Regions from separate parts of the Homo sapiens genome. Here region 1 is linked to region 2. Evidence: fine-mapped QTL for protein levels in blood plasma. A gene starts in region 2. The other region holds a variant in brackets. All regions are shown on one strand. Distances are between the middles of the regions.

Evidence for each region. PIP is the posterior inclusion probability: the model's chance that the variant is causal. Sun 2018 read protein levels with aptamers (SomaScan).
Region 1: its variant is fine-mapped to the plasma level of the NQO1 protein (Sun 2018, PIP 0.95).

The regions. Positions count from the first base shown.
Region 1 is chr16:69,563,077-69,574,380 of GRCh38, forward strand. NFAT5 (nuclear factor of activated T cells 5) reads left to right here and starts at 2,890. Exons shown (of 15, transcript NM_138713.4): 1 at 2,890-3,298; 2 at 5,419-5,472. The coding sequence starts at 3,226. MIR1538 (microRNA 1538) reads right to left here and starts at 2,792; the gene lies at 2,732-2,792. RefSeq lists enhancers at 958-1,854, 1,257-1,396 and silencers at 2,516-2,895, 2,615-2,791, 3,086-3,355, 3,376-3,685. The variant A/G (reference allele first, on the strand shown) is at 5,304.
Region 2 is chr16:69,722,299-69,733,602 of GRCh38, forward strand. NQO1 (NAD(P)H quinone dehydrogenase 1) reads right to left here and starts at 4,262. Exons shown (of 6, transcript NM_000903.3): 1 at 4,135-4,262. The coding sequence starts at 4,141. It overlaps NQO1-DT (NQO1 divergent transcript), which reads left to right and starts at 4,429. Exons shown (of 2, transcript NR_186363.1): 1 at 4,429-4,877. RefSeq lists enhancers at 3,745-4,737, 3,824-5,023, 4,270-4,529, 4,738-5,731.

The sequences.
Region 1 (11,304 bases), 160 kb before region 2:
TCCGCATTTTGGGAGGTCGAGGAAGGAGGATCACTTGAAGCCAGGAGTCCAAGACCAGCCTAGGCAATATAGCAAAATCATGTCTCTGCAAAAAAGGAGTTCAAGACTAGCCTGGGTAATATAGTAAGACCATGTCTCTACAAAAAAATAAAAAATAAAAATAAATAATAAAATGAATTAGCCGAGTGTGGTGGCATGTGCCTGTAGTCCCAGCTACTTGGGAGGCTGAGGTGAAGGATCACTTTGAGCCCGGGAGGAGTTTCAGTCTGCAGCTGCACTGAGCTATGAAGCTGCCACTACACTCCAGCCTGGGCAACAGAACAAGACCCTGTCTCAAAAAAATAAACAAACAAAAAAACCCGAAAGAATAGAAAAGAAAAAAAAGAAAAGAAAAGAATATAGGCCAGGTGCCGTGGCTCATGCCTGTAATCCCAGCACTTTGGGAGGCCAAGGCGGGTGGATCACCTGAGGTCAGGAGTTCGACACCAGCCTGGCCAACATGGTGAAACCCCATCTCTACTAAAAATACAAAAAATTAGCCGGGCATGGTGGTGGGCGCCTGTAACCCCAGCTACTCAGGAGGCTGAAGCAGAAGAATCACTTGAACCAGGGAGGCAGAGGTTGCAGTGAGCCGAGATTGCACTGCTGCACTCCAGCCTGGACAACAAGAGTGAAATTCCATCTTAAAAAAACAAACAAAAAAGAGAATATATCTCTGTAAGAAGACAGGTGCAGGGGGTGGGAGTGGACACTGATTTTTCAAATACCTATTTAGATATAATCCGTGCTTAATGCAGGACCTAATGAGGTAAGTGAGGCCTGAGCCCACAGAATCCCTCTCAGGGAATTCGCAGTTTAGGTCAAGCCACACTTTGGTGGGCCTCTCTTCACTTTGCTCTTACCTAATCAGGGGAAATCTGATTAACATATACAACAAAGCCTCAACGGGGAATAAAAAGGTCACAAAAGGGCAGAGAAGGATTCACAGAAAAAGGAAGAGGCCTTGCCAGTTCTTGACTAGTTAATTAGGGTCAGAACCGTACTGGGGATTTCCTATACCCTAAGTTTGTTAAGTGATTACATCGGTCTGGGGAAAAGGGATCTGCTCAGAGTGATTCAGTCAACTTTCTTAGTATCGGGTGGTGAATCGCATTTCCTCTCTGCTACCCTGTATACTGACTAATGGGTGGCGTATGGGGGGTCTCCAAGAGGTGTGTTTACTCCAATTCAGAAGCTATAGGATTTCAGTAGGCCTTGGCCTGTTGGGCAATGTGAGGTTTCAATCTTTCTCTCTCAAATGAGTGGGGCTCTTATCAGTTATGAAGGGACTTCCCTTGGGACTTGTCACGACACCATACAGCAGAGATGGCAATTTGAGGGCAGTTTCTTGTTCTGCTTTGCCATCTTGGGGTGGCTCTGAAAAGCTTTCTGAACCTCCGACAAAAGAAAAATGTTCACAGGATTGATTACTACACACAATTCAGTGAAGACAACTGGGCAACCTGAATCAAATGTTGAGATGAAAGATAGGTGAGCTCTGATGACACACGTTTAAATTCTAGGTCTACAGGTAAAACTTTGTAAAGGGCCTTGCCTCAGCGACATCTGTACTGGGCCCTCCTTTGCTGAGAGCTTCTTACCCCAACCCTAGCACTCCAAGTCCCGAGAACTGCTCAATTTCATGGGAAAAAGTCTCTATAATTATATATATATGTATATATGTGTGTATATATGTATGTATATATATGTGTGCATATATATACACATACACATATTACAACAGACTGATTTTCATGAGTTGTAACTATCCTTGTAGATAAAAAACGAAACCATTCGAATAGCTTAAAAACCATGCCCACGTGGCTACTGGCATCAATATTCCACACAAGATTAAAATTACTTCCCAAGATGCACACCCTGCACTCCAGGTAATATTTCAATAACTTGATTAAAAATTTCTCAGAAGTCTATTAGAATCAGAAAACGCTCTGCGGTGTGGGTGAGGATTTTAAATTTTTGCAACGGAAACTTTTGGCTCCACGAACAGAAAAGCAAGAGCAAAAACTCAGTTAAATGCGTTCTTCCTCCATCTTTGCCTAGTCCAAAAGGAAAAAAAAAGAAACAGAAAAAAGAAAAACTGTTTGGAAGAGTAGCGTTGAGGTTTGCTTTTTACCTGTTTTTCCTCTAGAACAGCCAGGTGGATTCACATGATCCAATTTTTTAATTGTCTTCTATGTCCCACTCCGAATAACCCGGATGCCCCAGCACAATCAGAGAGATCGTTTTTTTTAAAAAAAATTTCAGCCTCCAAAGGTAGGAGGGGAGTGTTAGGGGAGAAAGTACTTTAATTAAAAATCAATAACTCGAGGTTTTTGGGATACGGTTTGCCATTTCCTAATTAAGAAATGGGTTTGACAGTCCCTTTGTACACACTGCTATGCAAACCCCAAAGGGTTGGCGGCTGTCCGGGCGATGACACTCCGGTCCCCTGCGAGACCCCGGGCCAGCCAGGCCCGTCCGCCGCCGGCCTCTGGGGTCCGTCCCCGGCTCGCGCAGACCTCTCGCTTCTCTCGGCTCTGTCTCCTGCGCTCAGCTCTGCTCGGGGCCGGCCGCCTCAGGCTCGCCGCCACCAGGTCGTTGCAAATACCTTTTCCCTCCCCGGGGCCCCAGCGCGCGGCCACCTCCCAGCCTCCCCCCCTCCCACCCTGGCAGCGGGGCCCTTTCCCGGCTCAGGAACAGCAGCAGCCCGGGCCGCGCCGGCAGGAAGCGAGGCCCATGTTGCTGCTGTTCCCTGGCGCGCCTCCCCGCCCTCCGGGGGCCGCCACGGCTCTTCCGCGCTCCCGGGCACCCCCCTCCGCGCCTGCGCTGTGCCCCACGGGGGCGGGGCTCAGATTCCTGTCAGCGGCGGCGGCGGTGGCGGCGACCGTCAGTTTTCGCTGAGGAGAAACACGAAACGGACCCTTTGGCTCTCCCCCTTCCCCTTCCCCGTCCTGAACCCCTCTCCTGGTCACCGAGAATCAGTCCCCGTGGAGTTCCCCCTCCACCTCGCCATCGTTTCCTCGGTCCTCGGCCCAGTGGAAGTCACTACCCTCGAGGAGGAGGCAGCGGCAGCCGCCCTCGCGTCGCCGCCCCCGGTTCGGTGCCCGCGGTCCCGGAGAGGAGGTGCCGCCGCCACCGCCGCTCCCCCCCTCCCGCTGCCCTCGGGCCGGGCTGGGTCGAGCTGCGATGCCCTCGGACTTCATCTCATTGCTCAGCGCGGACCTAGACCTGGAATCGCCCAAGTCCCTCTACTCGCGAGGTGAGTCAGGCTGTGGGGGGTGGGGCGTGGGGGCGGGGAGACAGGGAGACAGGGAGACAGGGCCAGGGGAGGCGAGGGGTCCCCGTCCCGCCGGGGGCGGCTGAGCCGCGACCCCCATGGCTTCTTTGGCCGGAGCGGGCAGAGGCCGAAGGGATCGGGGTGACGGTGGAGGGGGCGGGCGGAGCAGTGGCGGCCCCTCCCCCGCGGAGCCGCCGGCCGCTCGGGGCCCAGATTCCGTCGGCCCCCGGGGCTCTGCGGCACCGGTCGCTTCTAGCCGCTCTCAGCCCGTCCGGCCCCGCCAGGCTCCGCGAGCCGCCGGCCCCGGCCTCCCGGGCTCGGGGATGGCCCCAGACTGGGCCCCGCGCTGGGGCCACCGCGATCGGGGCGCCGCGTCTTCTCTTACCGGGACCCTCCTCCCCAGCAAAGTTGCCCCCAAGCGGGCGGCGTGGCCTGGAGCCGGTTCTGAGTGCAGGGTCACCATTTTCCTCCCTTTCCAGCTTGTTTTTGCGCCGTCGTTCCACCCCCTCTCCCTCCGGCCTAGTCCACTCCCTCCCCATGTTGGGACAGCCCCCCTCGACCAGGCGTTCTTCCTTTCCTCGTCATCTTCTTGCTGGAAAGGGCCCGATGGAAAGGGCCCGAATTTTCTTTTCTTTTTTTTTCTCTTCCCACCTCCGTGGCATTCTAATTACTTCTCCCTTCTCCTTTACAAAGATGGGGGTGCCCTCTCTGGATTGGTTTTATTCCTCTCCTCTCCCAGGAGGACCAGCCCAGGCACAGACGCTGTCCTTTGAGAATTTTCTCTGCTTTTCCGTTCAAGGGCTGGTTGCAGGGAGGGAGCTCAGGCAGAGACTTTTCATTTAAGAACTCTTTTGGCTAAGGCCTGCAGGGGATTCCCAGCATCTGAAATATTAGCACTGGAGCTGATCCCTACTCAGGTGAAATTCCTTTACTGGACACCACAAGAATGTGTCAGAACAGGTTCCCTGTGCAAGGGGCTTCAAAACCAAAATATTCCCACTGCGCTCTTTACGCTTTTTAAACCACCGGGAGGGGGCAAAAGACATAACTGGGTTGTTAACTATTCATTTCACCGTGTAAAAAAAAATGTAGGTGTTTCTTCTGCTTTTGGTTTGATGTATCCATCCATTTGCTTATTCCACCCCCTCCAAAAAAGGGACTTCACCTTCCTACTAGTGTATCTAAATTGTTTAAGTGAATCAGAGTGAGATGGTTTACTCTGAAAGGTGCTGGACTTTACAGACTGACCATTGATTTTGTACACAGAGTCCTACTTAGTAATTGTAGCCACTGTCTGTTGCTCCAATGACTTTAGTTGGCAGCCACCATCCTGTAGGATGTTTTTCGGGCAACATTACCTGAGGTACTTTAGAAATATTGTAGTTTTGAATGTCAAAAAAAAAAGAGACATATCAAGAGATGATTCTTAGAGCAGGGCTAATGTGTTAGAATTGAGTGCTAAAAATAGCCAAGACATTAACACCATTTGGGGAGTAATCATCAGATAATTTTCCATGAAACATATACTTTATGAAAATCTAAGTTTAGCTTCGAGACCAATGTAGAGACAATTCAGCCTCTTTTGCGGGGAATATATTCACAAATATGGGCTTTAGCGCTTAAAAATACACTGCAGTTGGCCGGGCGCAGTGGCTCACGCCTGTATTCCCAGTACTGTGGGAGGCCGAGGCAGTTGGATCACCTGAGGTCGGGAGTTTGAGACCAGCCTGACCAATTTGGAGAAACCCCGTCACCCCGTCACTACTAAAAATACAAAATTAGCCGGGCGTGGTGGTGCATGCCTGTAATCCCAGCTACTCGGGAGGCTGAGGCACGAGAACCACTTGAATCCGGGAGGCGGAGGTTGCGGTGAGCCGAGATCGCACCATTGCACTCCAGCCTGGGCAAAAAGAACGAAACTCCGTTTCAAAATGTATGTGTGTATATATATATATGTGTGTGTGTGTGTGTGTGTGTGTGTGTGTAT[A/G]TATATATATATATACACACACACACATTGCAGTTATATAAGAGATGTATGCTATCCTTGGCATTTTTTTCCTCATTCAGCATAAAAAGTACCTAATGCTTTTTGTGTTTTTCAGATTCTCTGAAGTTACACCCATCACAGAATTTTCATAGAGCTGGACTATTGGAAGGTCAGCAAAGTACCATTTTAAAGCATATTGTGTTAGTATGCAAAGGCTTTCTCTGAAATGGAGTTTAAATGGGAAAGTATGAAACTTTGCAAACTCACACAATGTAGTTTTCTCCTAAAGAGTCTGATCCTTCTTTTAGAGCAGCTGAATGTTTCAATGGGTTTTGTTGCTGCGTTTGATGTGCTTGTTGGCTGTTCTATCTGCTTTGAGAAACATTGAAAAAAAAATCATTTTAAATTATGTGTTGAGTGTTCTACTTTAGAATTCCAGACCTTCATTTTAGCTTTTTATACACAAAATAGAATGTGAAAAGGCCCAAACATTAACATGAATATAAAAGAGTGACACCAAACACATAATTAGTTTGAAAATTCAGAATTTAGAACATTTATATGCTGAGCATTTCAAAATATGTTAATTATTTATTGCAAAAGCATTGATGCCATTGTTATTGCATTATACTTAAGGGTAAGGAAAGCCAAGTAATAGCGATGATGATTGAGCTATGCTTAGAAGAAAGGGGTTTAGAAAGTTCTGGAAATGTTAATAGAGTCTGTAGATTAGTTTAAACAGCTTACACTTACTTTAGAAAACTTTTGGCTTTGTGTGTGTGTGTGTTTTAACATTTTAAGACATAAAATAGTCTTGTGTTTTTGTAGATTTTGAAGTGATTTCACATATATCATCTTTAAATCTTTATAATTTTGGAATTGGACAGCAAAGGTACTAATTTCCCCATTGTAGAGAAGAGAAACTAAGGCTGAAATTAAGAAACCAAAAAAAAAAAAAAGTCCCACAGTAGAAGAAATAATACTTTCTGCGTTTCAGTTAGTGCTCTTTATGCAAAGCGGCCACCGTGAAATACACATGTAACCAGTAACAAACATTTTATGGTCTACTTTAAAAAGGCCCTAAATATTTAAGTTTGACTTGAGAAGATTTTTGCCTCCCTTGGAGGTAGTCCGGGATAGTGGGGGGCAAGTGGGTTTTGTAGTTGAGCTTAAATTTGAATACCAACTTAGCTCCTTATTAGTTCTGTGACTTCGGGCAAGTGATTTTACCTCTCTAAACTTTAATATTCTTCCTGTTAAAATGTAGCTGTCTCTTAAATTTAGTGAGCTAATGTGTATTAAATTGCCTAGCATAGCGTCTAGCTTAATAAATGTTAGTTTTTTCCTTTAGTATCAGCTAAATTTTTTTAACAGTATAATTTAGAGCATATAAAATGTTCTCAAATAAATAATTGGTTAAATTTGTTTTGTACGTGTAAGAAGCCCATAGATATACATTAGTATGAAAATCAAATATTTTTAAAACTACAATTTGAAGTGAGAAATTTTTAGCAGTGTTTCTTAGTGAAGCAGATTTCTGGTTTTTATTCATATTCAATTTGTGACCATGTTGTAGAGACATATTTGTCTGTACAAACCCATCTCATTTCCTGGACAACAAACCATAGAGTGTCATAATCATAGAGATGATCAGGGAGGAGAAAGACATGAAGAAAAAAATGAGTGTTAATTATTTAAGCAAATATTTTTAGTGAGCTGATGGAAATACAGACAACCATTTAGCATGTTTATTTACATGTTTATGCCTAAATACTTTCGTTAATTTTTCATTTTAGTTAAGGGGATTCTCATTTAAAGTAAGGCTACCCTTTTAGAAATTATATATAAAATATAACATGTATAAGTATCAATTCTGTCATGCCCTTTAAAATGTTTTGAGACAGGGTGTCTTAAAAAAGTTGTTTGCTTCTGTAATGAAGTGTCTAATCTGTGCCACCTCATTGCTATTTCTTTTTTATTATTGACATTTTAAAGAATACATAAAAGTAGAGAGAATAAAATAAGCCCCATATACCCATCACCACAGTTTAACCAGTATCTAATCTTGCTTCTTTTATCCCTTCTTCTCTCTCAAGCTGGATTATTTTAAAACAAATATCAAACATCAGATCACTTCATACATAAGTATTTCTGTATTACAGTGACTTTCTTATATTAATTATTATTGATATAATTTAATTGTTAATATAATTATTGTATTAATTTTTAATTACTCTGTATAGTTTATAAACTATTTCTTGGAATATTCTAGTTTATTTCAGCAAAGTCTCTTGTGACTCTCCTGCCCTCTTTTCAAGACAGAGTGCTGCAGGAGGCTACCGCTTCTAGTATATAGTATATCCTATAACCTATGTTGAAATTGTAGGCCATGCTGCTAGATTGGAGTTCATATTGTTGCTCTGACATTTACTTGTATGGCCTTAGCCTAATAATTTAATCTTTTTTGCTTCAATTTTCTCATCTTTAAACGGGAGCAATAATAGTGCCTCATCCTAGGTTTTTGTGAAGATTATTTGAGGCAAATTCGTGTAAAGCATTTAATTTAGCACATGCTAAGTGCTCAGTAAATGTTAGCTAAAGTTAAAAAATTTTTAAAAACTAAATGCTAGCTGTAGAGTGTTTACTGTGTGCCAAGAACTTTACAAATAAGAACTCCTGAGGTGGGCATATCACTTGAGGTCAGGAGTTTGAGACCAGCCTGGCTAACATGGTGAAACCCCATCTCTACTAAAAAAAAAAAAAAAAAAAAAAAAAAAAGCCAGGCATGGTGGCATACACCTGTAATACCAACTACTCGCGATGCTGAGGCAGGAGAATCCCTTGAATCTGGGAGACAGAGGTTGTGGTGAGCCAAGATCACTCTACTGAACTCCAGCCTGGGTGACAGAGTGAGACTCTGTCTCAAAAAAACAACAACAAACAAACAAACAAACAAAATAAGAACTCAGCGAATTCTCCTGACTACCCTTTGAGATGGTTATTATTATCCTACTTTAGAGATGAGCAATTGAAGGCATAACTCACCCAGAGTCACAAGCTAGTAAATTGTAGAACCAGAATTCCAACCCAGGTAGTCTCACTTTAGCCTAGCCTCTTGACTACTGTGCTGTACTAACTCCCAATGGTATATACTATCAAGTTCTGTCTAGTAATATTTATGTATGCATGTTTTACATCAGTAGTCTAGATTTTCATCTATAAATAGTATTTAAAAACTTGGCCCAGAGTGAGGGGAATTTAAGTAATTGGTGTGATATAATTTAATTTTTTTATAGAACGTACGTTTTCCAAATTTAAATTTTTTTTTTGGGGGGAAACAAGGTTGGAAAACCTGCACTTGGGTATTATTATTATTATTTATTATTATTATTTTTTTGAGATGGAGTCTTTGCTCTGTCGCCCAGGTTGGAGTGCAGTGGCACGATCTCGGCTCACTGCAAGCTCCACCTCCTGGGTTCACGCCATTCTCCTGCCTCAGCCTCCTGAGTAGCTGGGACTACAGGCGACTGCCACCACGCCCGGCTAATTTTTTTTGGATTTTTTAGTAGAAACAGGGTTTCACCATATTAGCCAGGATGGTCTCGATCTCCTGATCTCGTGATCCGCCTGCGTCAGCCTCCCAAAGTGCTGGGATTACAGGCGTGAGCCACCGCACCTGGCCTGCGCTTGGGTATTATTAAACTTTAGAAGTAGATTCAAAATGTCTACTATTCAACTGAGTTTGCATTTAACCTTCCTATCAAAACAGTGCTAGTCTTTCTTGCAACCTCTTTTTAAATTTAATACGATGATTGCCTGACAATGGGAAAAGGGTCCTGGCTAATTAATTAATGTTATAATACATGGCCATTAAATGATGTTTCTGGTAACCCCATAATTAACATGTGACACTCTTAATAAAATAAGTAAATAAAAATTATGCTGTTACAATTATATTCAAAGTAACTTGTGTTACAAAAATCCTGAACAAAAGTATACATCACTGATTTTCTATTTTTCAATTCTATTTTTGTATTTTCCATCTTTAAAGAACATGGTTTATATATTTTTTTTAAATAAAATTGTTTGCCATTAGTAAGTTCAAATTCGAAGGCTAGGATTCCTTTTTGAAGTGCCTGGGAAAAAAATTCAGCTGCAGAGAAAAGGCACCATTTGTTGTACATTCTATAATGAAAACTATTCATTTTGGCAAATGAAAAACTAAGATAGAAATGAAACTGAATGAATCATTCTAGAAATAGAGAAATATAAGATTATAGAAAAATCATAGATAAAACAGGAAAAATAAGAGTATAAACAAATTGGAAAAATAGATAAATATAAACAATAGATTTAACAATTTTAATGATTTTAAAAGCATGAGTTAAGAGATTATATATCAAATGAAAGAACTGGTTAAATAAGAGCTAAATGCTGATCTGATATAATCTTTGTTATTTATTTATTTATTTATTTATTTTTGATACAGAGTCTCACTCTGTTGCCAGGCTGGAGTGCAGTGGCATGATCTCAGCTCACTGCAACCTCTGCCTCCTGGGTTTAAGTGATTGTCCTGCCTCAGCCTCCTGAGTAGCTGGGACTACAGGCGCGTGCCACCACACCCAGCTAATTTTTGTATTTTTAGTAGAGACAGGGTTTCACCATGTTGGCCAGGGTGGCCTCGATCCCTTGACCTCATGATCCACCCTCCATGGCTTCCCAAAAGTGCTAGGATTACGGGCATGTGCCACCGCATCCGGCCACAATCTTTGTTTAAATTAAACATTTAAGACCGGAAGATTTTTAAAAGAAAATGTGAAATATGACAATGAGTTAAGAGAAAATAAACTATGATTTTTTTTTTACTACTGCTAATCTATTTGATATGGTACCATCCAGAATTATACTTCATAGTGCAAAAATGGAAAATCCTAAACATAGTAGCAATGTTTTATTGACTTTATAGAATATTTCTGATTTATATTTCTTCCTAGGGCCCTTGTTATATCATAGATCATAAATGCCTATAATATTTTATGTACAAAGATACCTTTTTGGAAAGGATTTTTTGAAAACATTTAACATGAAAAATAATCTATTGAATTCTTTTCTTGTTTAGTATCTAATAATCTCTGTGGATCCATGTCTAGTAAACTAAAAGTATTATGGAAATAATGAAGTTCAAACATGTCAAAAGTCATACCTAGTTCATCCCAGCTTCTTGTCTTTAGATCCATCTCTTTCTGATTGCTTACCACCTGTTTTTGTGTCCCTTCCTAAACTCTGCTTTCATTATTTTCACTCAATACTGGAATTCTATTGCTTATTTAAAATAAAAGGATATAAATTCATATTCTAATCCAGTGGTTCTTGGCCTGATTTTAATTTACTCTTGACTCTGATTATTCCAGGAGTCCCCTAAAATTTCAAAGTGGTAGTACAGAAAAACATTTCCCAGTGTGATTAGTATTATATATAAAAAACAGCCACTTTTTTTTTTTTTTTTTTTTTGAGATAGAGTTTCGCTCTTGTTGCCCAGGCTGGAGTGCAATGGTGCAATCTCAGCTCACCGCAACTTCACCTCCAGGTTCAAGCGATTTCCCTGCCTCAGCCTCCCAAGTAGCTGGGATTACAAGGGCGCACCACCACACCTGGCTAATACTGTATTTTTATTAGAGATAGGGTTTCTCCATGTTGGTCAGGTTGGTCTCGAACTCGTGACCTCAGGTGATCCACCCACCTCGGCCCCCCAAAGTGCTGGGATTACAGGCGTGAGCCACTGCGCCCGGCCAAAACAGACACTTTTTATATGAAAAAGTTGACTCCTCAGAGTATATTTTATATTAAGAGTAACAGGTAACTAGAAAAAAATAAAGATTATTCAGTGGCATAGGATATAGACCTTTTAACTTTAGAGAGGTAAAAGACATTTTTCAATAGAAATGTTGCTTATTAATTTGTATTATTGTCTTTTCTTGCTGTTGCTAAGATTTTATTTCAA
Region 2 (11,304 bases):
ATTACAGGCGCGTGCCACCACGCCCGGCTAATTTTTTGTATTTTTTGTTTTAGTAGAGACACCATGTTAGCCAGGATGGTCTCGATGTCCTAACCTCATGACCCACCTGCCTTGGCCTCCCAAAGTGCTGGGATTACAGGCGTGAGCCACCGCGCCCAGCCGGCATCTGCAACTTTTTTGCACCATCTGAATAACTAGAAATAACTAAAATAACTAGAAAGGCACATTTAAACCTTAAGCTCTCTTCCTGCTTTTATTATTGACCACATCTAGCAAGGCAAGTGCCTCTTGGGCTAAATTCAGCGAAGTGTAACTTTCAGGGCCCAATATGCCAAACCAGGGGATTTCCAAACTTGGTCCTAGGGTTTTGGACTCTTAAAACTAAGACTCAGTGGAATAGGTGTCTGGTGATGATTTCAATGCGCTGGAAGTGATTGACTTGCTTGGGATAGCTTGGAAAAAGGAAAAGGAAGCTCTGAGGCTGCCTCAACAAATTCCTACCTCTTTAACCCATGGATTTAACATGATTGGGAGGGAAGTGAGCATATTCAGCTCTAACAGGCATTTTCTTTGTAACTTACCTTGCCATTAGTCTTATCAATGTTTACTGATCGCCGCTCTGACAGTTTTTGTTTGTTTGTTTTTTTGAGACAGAGTTTCGCTCTGTCGCCCAGGCTGGAGTGCAGTGGCGCGATCTCGGCTCACTGCAAGCTCCGCCTCCCAGGTTCACGCCATTCTCCTGCCTCAGCCTCCAGAGTAGCTGGGATTACAGGCGCTCGCCGCCACGCCCGGCTAATTGTATTTTTAGTAGAGACGGGGTTTCACCGTGTTAGCCAGGATGGTCTCGATTTCCTGACCTCGTGATCCGCCTGTCTCGGCCTCCCAAACTGCTGGGATTACAGGCGTGAGCCACAGCGCCCAGCCAACAGTTTTTATTTTATTGACTTCTCATCAATGTTAACAAGCATTTTCTAAGTAGTAAGACAGTCAAGGCACTTCTCAGAAAATGAGCAAATCAGGATATCCATCTCTTGCTCTTTCAAGGAGCTCAGACTCTAATAGCTATAAGCAGGCCTGTGACTTTACAATTTTTCATGTAAGGCAACACACAAGCAGGAATAATATATTTGCAACAAATATAACCATCAAAGTGCAGTACCTGGAATAGGTAGATCCCCAAAACAACTCAAAAGAAAAATGATCAAAAGAAGGTTGTGGGTGGGTCGCGGTGGCTCACACCTGTAATCTCAGCACTTTGGGAGGCTGAGGCGGGCAGATCACCTCATGTCAGGAGTTAGAGACCAGCCTGGTTAACATGGTGAAACCCCGTCTCTACTAAAAATACAAAAAAAAATTAACCAGGTGTAGTGGCAGGTGCCTGTAATCCCAGCTAATCGGGAGGCTGAGGCAGGAGAATTGCTTGAATCCAGGAGGCGGAGGTTGCAATGAGCCGAGATCGCACCATTGCACTCCAGCCTGCGCAACAGAGCAAGCCTCTGTCTCAAACAAACAAACAAAAAGATGCTTGTGAATAGGCAATTTAAAAGTTTTCTGGGCCCTGGAGGGTTCATTTTCCCTTCCTGCCACTTAACTAGCTGAGCAACATGACCTGGGAGGAGTTAGACTATTAGAGTTTACCCTGAGAGAGGCCACAAGATGCACACACGGATAACCTCTTCAGGGTACAATGGCATTAGTGTGTTAGGAGAGGTAAGGGACAAAGTTCAACAGAAGGCTGGGTGTGGTGGCTCATGCCTGTAATCGTAGCACTTTGGGAGACCGAGGCGGGTGGATTACTTGAGGTCAGGAGCTAGAGACCAGCCTGGCCAACATGGTGAAACCCCGTCTCTACTAAAAATACACAATTAGCTGGGCGTGGTGGTGGGCGCCTGTAATCCCAGCTACTTGGGAGGCTGCAGCACAAGAATCGTTTGAACCTGGGAAGTGGAGATTGCAATGAGCCAAGATCACGCCACTGCACTACAGCCTGGGCAACAGAGTGAGTGAGACTCCATCTCAAAAAGTTCAACAGAGGAAAACTTCAGGACCTCAGGGCTGGCCCATTCGGAAAGGCCCTCAGAGGAGCTTGCCATTTGAGCTGAATCTTGGTCTTGAACTCCTGGCCTCAAGCAGTCCTCCCGCCTCAGCCTCCCAAAAGTGCTGGGATTACAGGAATGAGCCACCACTCCCAGCCAAAATTTTTTTTTTTTTTAATTAGCTGGGTTTCAAGTTCTTCTGCTCTGACCAAAAAAAATTAGCTGGGTGTGGTGGCACACACCTGTAGTCCCAGCTACTCGGGGGCAAAGATGGGACAATCACTTGAGCCCAGGAGGTCAAGGCTGAAGTGAGCCCTGATCATGCCACTGCACTCCAGCCTGGGCAACAAAGCAAGACCCTGTCTCAAAAAGAAAAAAAGAAGTATGATAAAGATAAGCCTTTGTATCAGTTTCATGCATTCTCCTTCTGCCTTCTCTTCTCACTTGAGTGCTCCAGGGAACATGAGTGCAAATCAGATGCATCTATTAGTTGCAAACAAAAAACCTGGATGCTTTAGTTAACCTCAAGATTTGGTTAGCTGGGTACAGCTAAAACTAATTATACAAGATCCAAGTCTTCCCTTTTCACCTCATTACCACCGCCCTTTTTTGTGTTTAAGCTACACGTAAATACAGAACATTCTGTAAGATTGAAAAGTCAGGAAATAGTTCCTGCCCTAGTATTGGAGGAGAGGGTGCCAGTGCCTCGACGCTGAAGAATGAAATACAAGGGAAACAGCAACCACCGTGTATGCGGCAAGCCTCTCAGCTGTCAGAATCTATTCCCTGCTGTCTCTGCCAGTAACTCATGCTGGGCTACCAATCCCCAGCTTAGTCCCTTTCTCAGAGATCCTGATAATTTCAGTTTGTCAACTGCAAGGGCAGTCTGTTCCTCCACTCACTTTGACCAAGATGGGCTTCTTTGTGTACAGGCGCATTTTTAGAGGCAGGACCAGGTCCACAGGGAAGGAAATTACAAAACACAGGATTCTGCCCCAGATGAGGCAACAGCTTTCTAAATCTTAGTACTGTCCAATCTCAGAGTGAGATTATTTGGGAAACAGCTCTCAATCCCTGCAGTTGTCTCAGCTGGTTATTTATGCCTTGGGTGGAGCTGGGGTGACCTCTGAGTTCCCCTAGGGTCGATGGCCGAGTGGGAAGGCTCTATCACTGAAGTGGACCCAATACTAGAAACGGATCCAGTACGATCTGATCAGGTTTGCCTAATCCAAGGGCCTCAATGGAAAATGCCTCCCAAGGCCAGGCACGGTGGCTCACGTCAGTAATCTCAGCACTTGGGGAGGCTGAGGTGGGTGGATCACCTGAGGTCAGGAGTTCAAGACCGCGCTGGCCAACTTGGCGAAACCCGTCTGTACTAAAAATATAAAAATTAGCCGCGCATGATGGCGCACTCCTGTAATCCCAGCTACTCGGGAGGCTGAGATGGGAGAATCGCTTGAACCCGGGAGGCGGAAGTTTCGCTGAGCTGAGATAGCGCCATTGCACTACAGCCTGGGCGACAAGAGCAAAACTCCGTCTCAAACAAAACAAAACAAAACAAAACAAAACAAAACCTGTGCCTGGCAGCCTGGAGCCGGTTCTGGTCTCCGTCAAACCAAAGGCATCAGTTTCCTCCACTCCTGTCCACCAATCGCCAGATATTCTCATTTTCTTCAGAAGCTCGGAATCCACATTTTTAAGTGAAATCACCCATTTTAATGTTAGCAACTTATTTCAAAGTGTTTTAGATACTATAGACCAAAAGAGGTATGGGCTGTGACCGTAAGCCTGATTTGGCCTCTGACGGCCAGTTTCTGACCACAGTTTTGGAGGGAATTTCTGCTTCCAAGGTCAAGTTTCTCCTAAATGCCCACTAGAGTTCGTGGGGTGGAGTGAGGAAGGATCCGCGACACCGGATACAAACAGAAGCTCTCCTTCTCCCGGAGTCCGATCAAGGCTCATCCCAGGTCCCTAATCTCTTCCCTTTGTGGGTTTTGAGTCAAGGAACAAAATTCAGGGCCAAGCCCCTACAACCTCCTCCACAGGCACCAGTGCTCGAGAGACGACCGCCAAGCACCCCGCCCTTTGCAGCACTCACCGACCATGGCTCTGGTGCAGTCCGGGGCGCTGATTGGCTGGGCTCGTGGTTGCCGGGGCGACCCTGGCCGGAACTAGGCTCTCGGTGAGCTGGGCGGCTCCGGCTGCAACCTTGTGGGAGTCGCGTGTGTAGTGCACGGTGCATTCTCTCTTATATATCCTGTCCGGCCCGTTTGAGGTGGACAGCCTACAAGGGCGGGACCCAACGCCTGAATCCTGGGGTGCTGGGCGGAGGATGCTGAGGCTGCAGCTCCAGGAAGGGAGGGAGCCTGGGGGATGAAGGAGGGGCCTCTCCACTCTCACCCGCCGGAGCAACTGGTGGAAGTCAAGAAAAGTCTCTCGGGGCTGGGGGAGGGGATTGTAGGGGTGTGTGTGACAGAGGCCTCAAAAATCTGGCTGGGGGTGCTAAGGCAAGCCCATCTGCGCACTGTGCCCTGAGGTGCAAGAGGATGCAGGGTGGAAGTCGTCCCAAGAGAGTCCAGGGATCAAGTGGGCATGCCCTTTTAGCCTTGGCACGAAATGGAGCAGAAAAAGAGCCGGATGCGGATTACTGTGGTGCCCTAGGCTCAGATTCTGCTGAGTCACTGTGACTGCGGATTTGGAAGGCTGAGAGTCCTGGGGAGACATGCTCCGTGGAGACGAATTTGTTTCTTCCTTTGCAAGATTCAGATTCTGCACTTGGGGGCCCATACAACACACTTCCCTGGGTGCATGCCACTGCACCACCCCTGCTCCTCAAGGCAGGTAATGGGGGAACTAATTGGTTTTGTTTCCCATGAGCTAAGGCAAGGCTGGTGTGGAGATAGCAGTTATAGGGAAGCATATTAAAGAATAGCCAAAACGGGACCAGGCGCGGTGGCTCACGCCTGTAATCCCAGCAATATGGGAGGCCGAGGTGGGTGGATCACCTGAGGTCAGGAGTTCGAGACCAGCCTGGCCAACCTGGTGAAGCCCCGTCTGTACTGAAAAATTAGCTGGGCGTGATGGCGGGCGCCTGTAAGTCCCAGCTACTCGGGAGGCTGAGGCAGGAGAATCGCTTGAACCCGGAAGGCGGAGGTTGCAGTGGGTCGAGATCGTGCCACTGCACTCCCGCCTGGGTGACGAAGTGAGACTCCGTCTCAAAAAAAACTCTATAAAGTAAAAGTTACTGTAAAGAAGGAGATATACTCTCAGTAGGTGAAGGAAAAAGAACTAGAGCTTTAAAGTGGTAATTAACCATCAGAAGAATCACAGATGGGGGAGGTGAGGATGACACAGGGCCCTTCCGTTGTCCCTCCAGTGCAAAAGTTAAGGAGGCACCAGAAAACTGGTTTCCAACTCCCGACCTCAGGTGATCCTACCGCCTCGGCCTCCCGAAGTGCTGGGATTACAGGCATGAGCCACCGCGCCCGGCCCCATCGTGACATTTTTGCATTCATTTTGATGCAACAAGAGAGGACTATATTATTTACACGTATTTACAAATTACTTTGGGAGGCTGAGGCAGGAGGATCACTTGAGCCCAAGAGTTTGAGAAAAGCCTGAGCAACAAAGTGAGACCCCATCTGACAAAATAGTATAAAAGGACGTTTTAAAAAAGGGCTAGGTAGGCAGCCCTGTCCAATAGAACTTTCCCTATCTGTGCTGCCCAAGTAAGGTAGCCACAAGCTTCAAGTAGCTATTGAGCACTGGAAATGTGGCCAGCAGCCAGGCGTGGTGGCAGGCGCCTGTGTCCCAGCTACTCAGGATCTGAGGCAAAAAGATCGCTTGAGCCCAGGAATTCAAGGCCGCAGTGGTGGACTCAATAAAAGAAAAAAAATGGAAATTAAAAAAAAAAAAGTGGCCAGTGGACTGAGGAAGTGAAGTTTTAATTGTAATTAAATTAATTTTTTAAAAATTTATTTTTTGAGGCGGGGTTTCACTGTGTCGCCCAGGCTGGAGTGCAGTGGCAGGATCTTGGCTCACTGCAATCTCCATCTCCTGGGTTTAAGCAATTCTTGTGCCTCAGCTTCCTGAGTAGCTAGGACTACGGGCATGCACCACCACAGTCAGCCACTTTTTGTATTATTCGTAGAGATGAGTTTCACCATGTTAGCCAGGCTGGTCTCAAACTCCTGACCTCAGGTGATCTGCCCACCTCGGCCTCCCAAAGTGCTAGGATTACAGGCATGTGCCACTGCGCCTGGCTTTAATTAAATTTAGATAGCCACATGTCACTAGTGTTTGGAAAGACCTGAGCTGGTTCAGATCGAGGCCGCAGTGTGCTGGCTATTCTATCTCTCACTCTTCTAGTGAGATTGTTTTCTCAATCACCAGTCTCCCTGACCCATCCAGAGGTGGGGCTCAAAGCCACAAAGCTCAAGTGTCGTGTTCGGTCGTTGGTTTCCAGCATGGCCAGTTCCCATCCTCAGTCATCTTGTTAACATGAACTATATAGGGGCCCATCCCAAGTCATCTCATTAGCATAAACCATCAGGAGTGGTCTGAGAAGCCCACAATGAATAAGATGGACACTCCTATCATTTGGGATTTAGGGGCTCAGGGGCATGATGATAGTTCACTGCAGCCTCGACCTTCTGGAGTCAAGCAATCCTCCTGCCCCAGCCTCCTGAGTAGCTGAGATGACAGGTGCATGCCACCGTGCCTGGCTAATTTTTTTTTATTTTTTTGGTAGAGATAGGGTCTCACTATGTTGCCCAAGCTGGTCTCAAACTCCTGGGCTCATGTGATCCTCCCGCTTTGATCTCCCAAAGTGCTGGAGTTACAGGTATGTGCCACCACTCCTGGCCAAATTTGTTACTACACAGTGGTAAAGACAGACATTTGAGGTGGCAGTGAACCAAGATCATGCCACTGCACTCCAGCCTGGGCAACAGAGGGAGATCCTGTCTCAAAAGAAAAAAAGAAACTTACTGGCCGGGCACAGTGGCTCAGGCCTGTAATCCCAGCACTTTGGGAGACTGAAGCGGGTGGATCACTTGAGCTCAGGAATTGGAGACCAGCCTGGCCAATGTGGTGAAACCCCGTCTCCACTAAAAATACAAAAACATGAGCTGGGTGTGGTGGTGGGCGCCTCCAGTCCCAGCTACTCGGGAGGCTGAGGCACGAGAATCGCTTGAATTCAGGAGGCAGAGGTTGCAGTGAGCTGAGATTGTGCCACTGCACTCCAGCCTGGGCAACAAGAGCGAGACTCCATCTCAAGAAAAAAAGAAAAAGAAAAAGCTGCTGTGGAGCATGGGCGAGCACTGCTGCCTGGACAAAGACCGAGGGTCCTCGGGAGGGCAGTACTGATGTACAGGTTTCCAGCAGGTCGGCGTGTGTGTTCTCTCCTGCAGGTCTGCAGCCAGGCGTGCCAGGAGAGGGGGAGTCTGAGGGATTGATGTAGGTTGGGAAAGCATGATGAGAGGAGACAGAGTGGGGGCTGTGAAGAAGAGAGCGACTTGATGGTGGCGGTAGTTACACAGATGTATGTATTTATTAAAATCCGCTGAAAAGTACATTTTAAATACAAGCATTTTATTGTATGCATGTTATTCCTCAACAAAGTCCATTTTTAAAAAGTAGAGTGGTTGGAGTGATGACGAACATTATGAAAGGGCTTATTGGCAGAGAAAAAGTAGAGGGGTCCAGAGACTCAAGTTCCTAACGAGGCTGAAGTAAGAGTGGGGGATTAAATAAGGGCAAAAACTGAGAGAATAAAAAAAGTGGGTTGTTTGGGGCCAGGTGCGGTGGCTTATACCTGTAATCCCAGCACTTTGGGAGGCCAAGGCAGGGGGATCGCTTGAGCCCAGGAGTTCAAGACCAGCCTGGGCAACATAGTGAGACCCCCCCGCAACCCCCCCCACCTCTGCCATCTCTAAAAAAATTAAAAATTAGCTAGGTGTGGTGGTGTGCACCTGTGGATCCAGCTACTAAGGAGGCTGAGATGGGTGGATCATCTGAGCCTGGGAAGTCGACGCTATAGTGAGCTGTGACTGTACCACTGCACTCCAACCTAGGCAGCACAGTGACACCCTATCTAAAAACAAAAAGAAAAAACAAAAACCCAAGTGGGTTGATTGGGAAACACAGGAGATAGAAGTTAAAATCATGGGGAAACATCAGTCAAATCACAGTGTGGGACATTCTACAGGACAACCAACCTGGTTTATCCCATAATTCAGTGCTATAAGAAAAATGAAGGAGTGTATATTGATCAGGATTTTCCAGAGAAACAGAACCAATTGAATTTCTATAAATATATAAAAAGCAATATATTGCTGGGTGCAGGGCTCACACCTTGTGATGGTTAATAATGAGTGTCAACTTGATTGGATTGAAGGATGCAAAGTATTGATCCTGGGTGTGTCTGTGAGGGCGTTACCAAAGGAGGTGAACATTTGAGTCAGTGGGACTGGGAAGGGCGGACCCATCCTCAATCTGGGTGGGCACCAACTAATCAGCTGCCAGTGCGGCCAGAATATAAAGCAGGCAGAAAAACGTGAAAAGACTAGACTAGGCCTGGTGCCGTGGCTCACGCCTGTAATCCCAGCACTTTGGGAGGCCGAGACGGGTGGATCACTTGAAGTCAGGAGTTCAAGACCAGCCTGGCCAATATGGCAAAACTCATCTCTGCTAAAAATACAAAAAAATTTAGCTGGGTGTTGTGGTGCATGCCTATAATGCCAGCTACTCAGGAGGCTGAGGCAGGAGAATAGCTTGAACCCAGGAAGCAGAGGTTGCGGTGAGCCGAGATCACACCGCTGTACTCCAACCTGGGTGACAGAGACTCACCTCACCAAAAAAAAAAAAAAAAATAAGTGGGGCTAGACTGGCCTAGCCTCCCAGTCTACATCTTTCTTCTGTGCTGGATGTTTCCTGCCCTCCAACATCAGACTCCAAGTTCTTCAGCTTTGGGACTCGGACTGGCTTCCTTGCTCCTCAGCTTACAGATGGCCTATTGTGGGGCCTTGTGATTGTGTGAGTTAATACTACATATGTCTATCTTATTACTTCTGTCCCTCTACAGAAACCTGACTAATACACACCTGTAATCCCAGCACTTTGGGAGGGCAAGGCAGGCGGATCCCTTGAGGCCAGAAATTTGAGACCAGCCTGGGCAACACAGCAAGACCCCATCTCTACAAAACATAATTTTAAATAAAATTAGGCCCGTGTGGTATTATGCGTCTGTAGTCCCCCTCACTTGGGAGGCTGAGGTGGGAGGATTGCTTGAGCCCAGACAGTGAAGGCTGCAGTGAGCCAAAGATCTCACCATCGCACCCCAGTTTGGGTGGCAGAGTGAGATCCTGCCTCAAAGAAAAAAAAAAACAAACAGGTGTGGTGGCTCACACCTGTAATTCCAACACTTTGGGAGGCTGGGGCGGGCAGATCACTTGAGGTCAGGAGTTTGAGACCAGCCTGGCCAATATGGCAAAACTCCATCTCTACTAAAAATATGAAAATTAGCTGGGCGTGGTGGCATGTGCCTGTGATCCCAGCACTTTGGGAGGCCCAGGCGGGCAGATCACGAGGTCAGGAGTTCAAGACCAGCCTGGCCAACATGGTGAAACCCCGTCTCTATTAAAAATACAAAAATTAGCCAGGTGTGATGGTACATGCCTATAGGCCCAGCTACTCGGCAGGAGGAGAATTGCTTGAACCCTGGAGACAGAGGTTGCAGCAAGCCGAGATCACACCACTGCACTCCAGCCTGGGCAACAGAGGGAGACTCCATCTCAAAAAAAAAAAAAAAAGCTGTATTTTATGAGGGATTGGCTCATTTGATTCTGGAGGCTGGGAAGTCACACAATCTGCTGTCTGTAAGCAGGAGGCTGGGGAAAGCTGGTGGTGTGGTTTTGGTCCAAACTCAAGAGTGAGAACCAGGGGAGCCAGCGTTGCAAGTGCCACTCCCAGTCCAAAGGCCCAAGAACCAGGAACAGCAGTGCCCGAGAGCAAGAGAAGATGATGTCCCACCTCAAGAAAAGAGTAAGCAAATCTACCCGGCCTCCTCCTCTCTATTGTACTCGGGCCTTTGGTGGCGTGGATGATGCCTGCCCACCTTGGTGAGGGCAATTTTCCTTAATGCAGCCTGCCGATCCAAATGCTCATCTCTCTCCCAGAAACGCCCTCCCAGACACACCTAGAAACAATGTTCCACCAGCTATCTGAGCATTCCTTGCCCAGTCAAGCTGACATGTAAAATTAACCATCAGTTAATTGTGTTAAAGAATGTAAGAGATTTAACAAGATAAAACAAGCAAATGTCATATGCAGACATTGTTTGGATCTTGATTCAAACAAACATCTATAAAAAGACATCTTTGGACGGGTGCAGTGGCTCACACCTGTCATCCCAGCACTTTGCGAGGCAGAGATGGGCGGATCACCTGAGGTGAGGAGTTTGACACCAGCCTAGACAACATGATGAAACCCCGTCTCTACTAAAAGTACAAAAATTAGCCAGGTGTGGTGGTGCACACCTGTAATCCCAGCTACTGAGGAGGCAGAGACACAAGAATCCCTTGAACCTGGGAGGTGGAGGTTGCAGTGAGCCGAGATTGTGCCGCTGCGCTCCAGCCTGGGTGACAGAACAAGATTCTGTCTCAAAAAAAAAAAAAAAAAAAAAATCTTTGAGAAAATCAGAGAACAGATATTAGATGATATTTAGTTAGGTATGATAGTTTTTTTTTTTTTTTGAAGTCAGGTATCAATTAAACATGCATATTGAAGTGTCTAGAGGTAAAATGAAATTATGTCATGCCTTTGCCTTAAACTATTTCAAAAACAACCGATTGGCAAAATGTTTCTGAGTATTGAAACAAAATGTATGGTACATGGGCATTCATTATTTTATTCTTAATTCCATGAATATTTAAATTTTTCCAGTATAAAAAGTTTTACAGTGGTGGTGTGCTCTTGTATTCCCAACTACCTGGGAGGGTGAAGTGAGAGATCTCTTTAGCCCAAGAGTTCGAGGCCAGCCTGGGCAACATAGTGAGACACTGTCTCTTAAAAACAACAACAACAAAACATTTTACACAAAGAAAAAGAAACTAGGCTATGTGTTTGAAGTTTTTAAATAAACATTTTATTTTTGAGTACTTCAAAATTTAGAGGAAAATTGCAAGGCTTACATTTTATATAATATTTACATAAATGTGAAATGTGGTACGTTTATCAAAATTATGAAATAAACTAAATATTTTAGGCT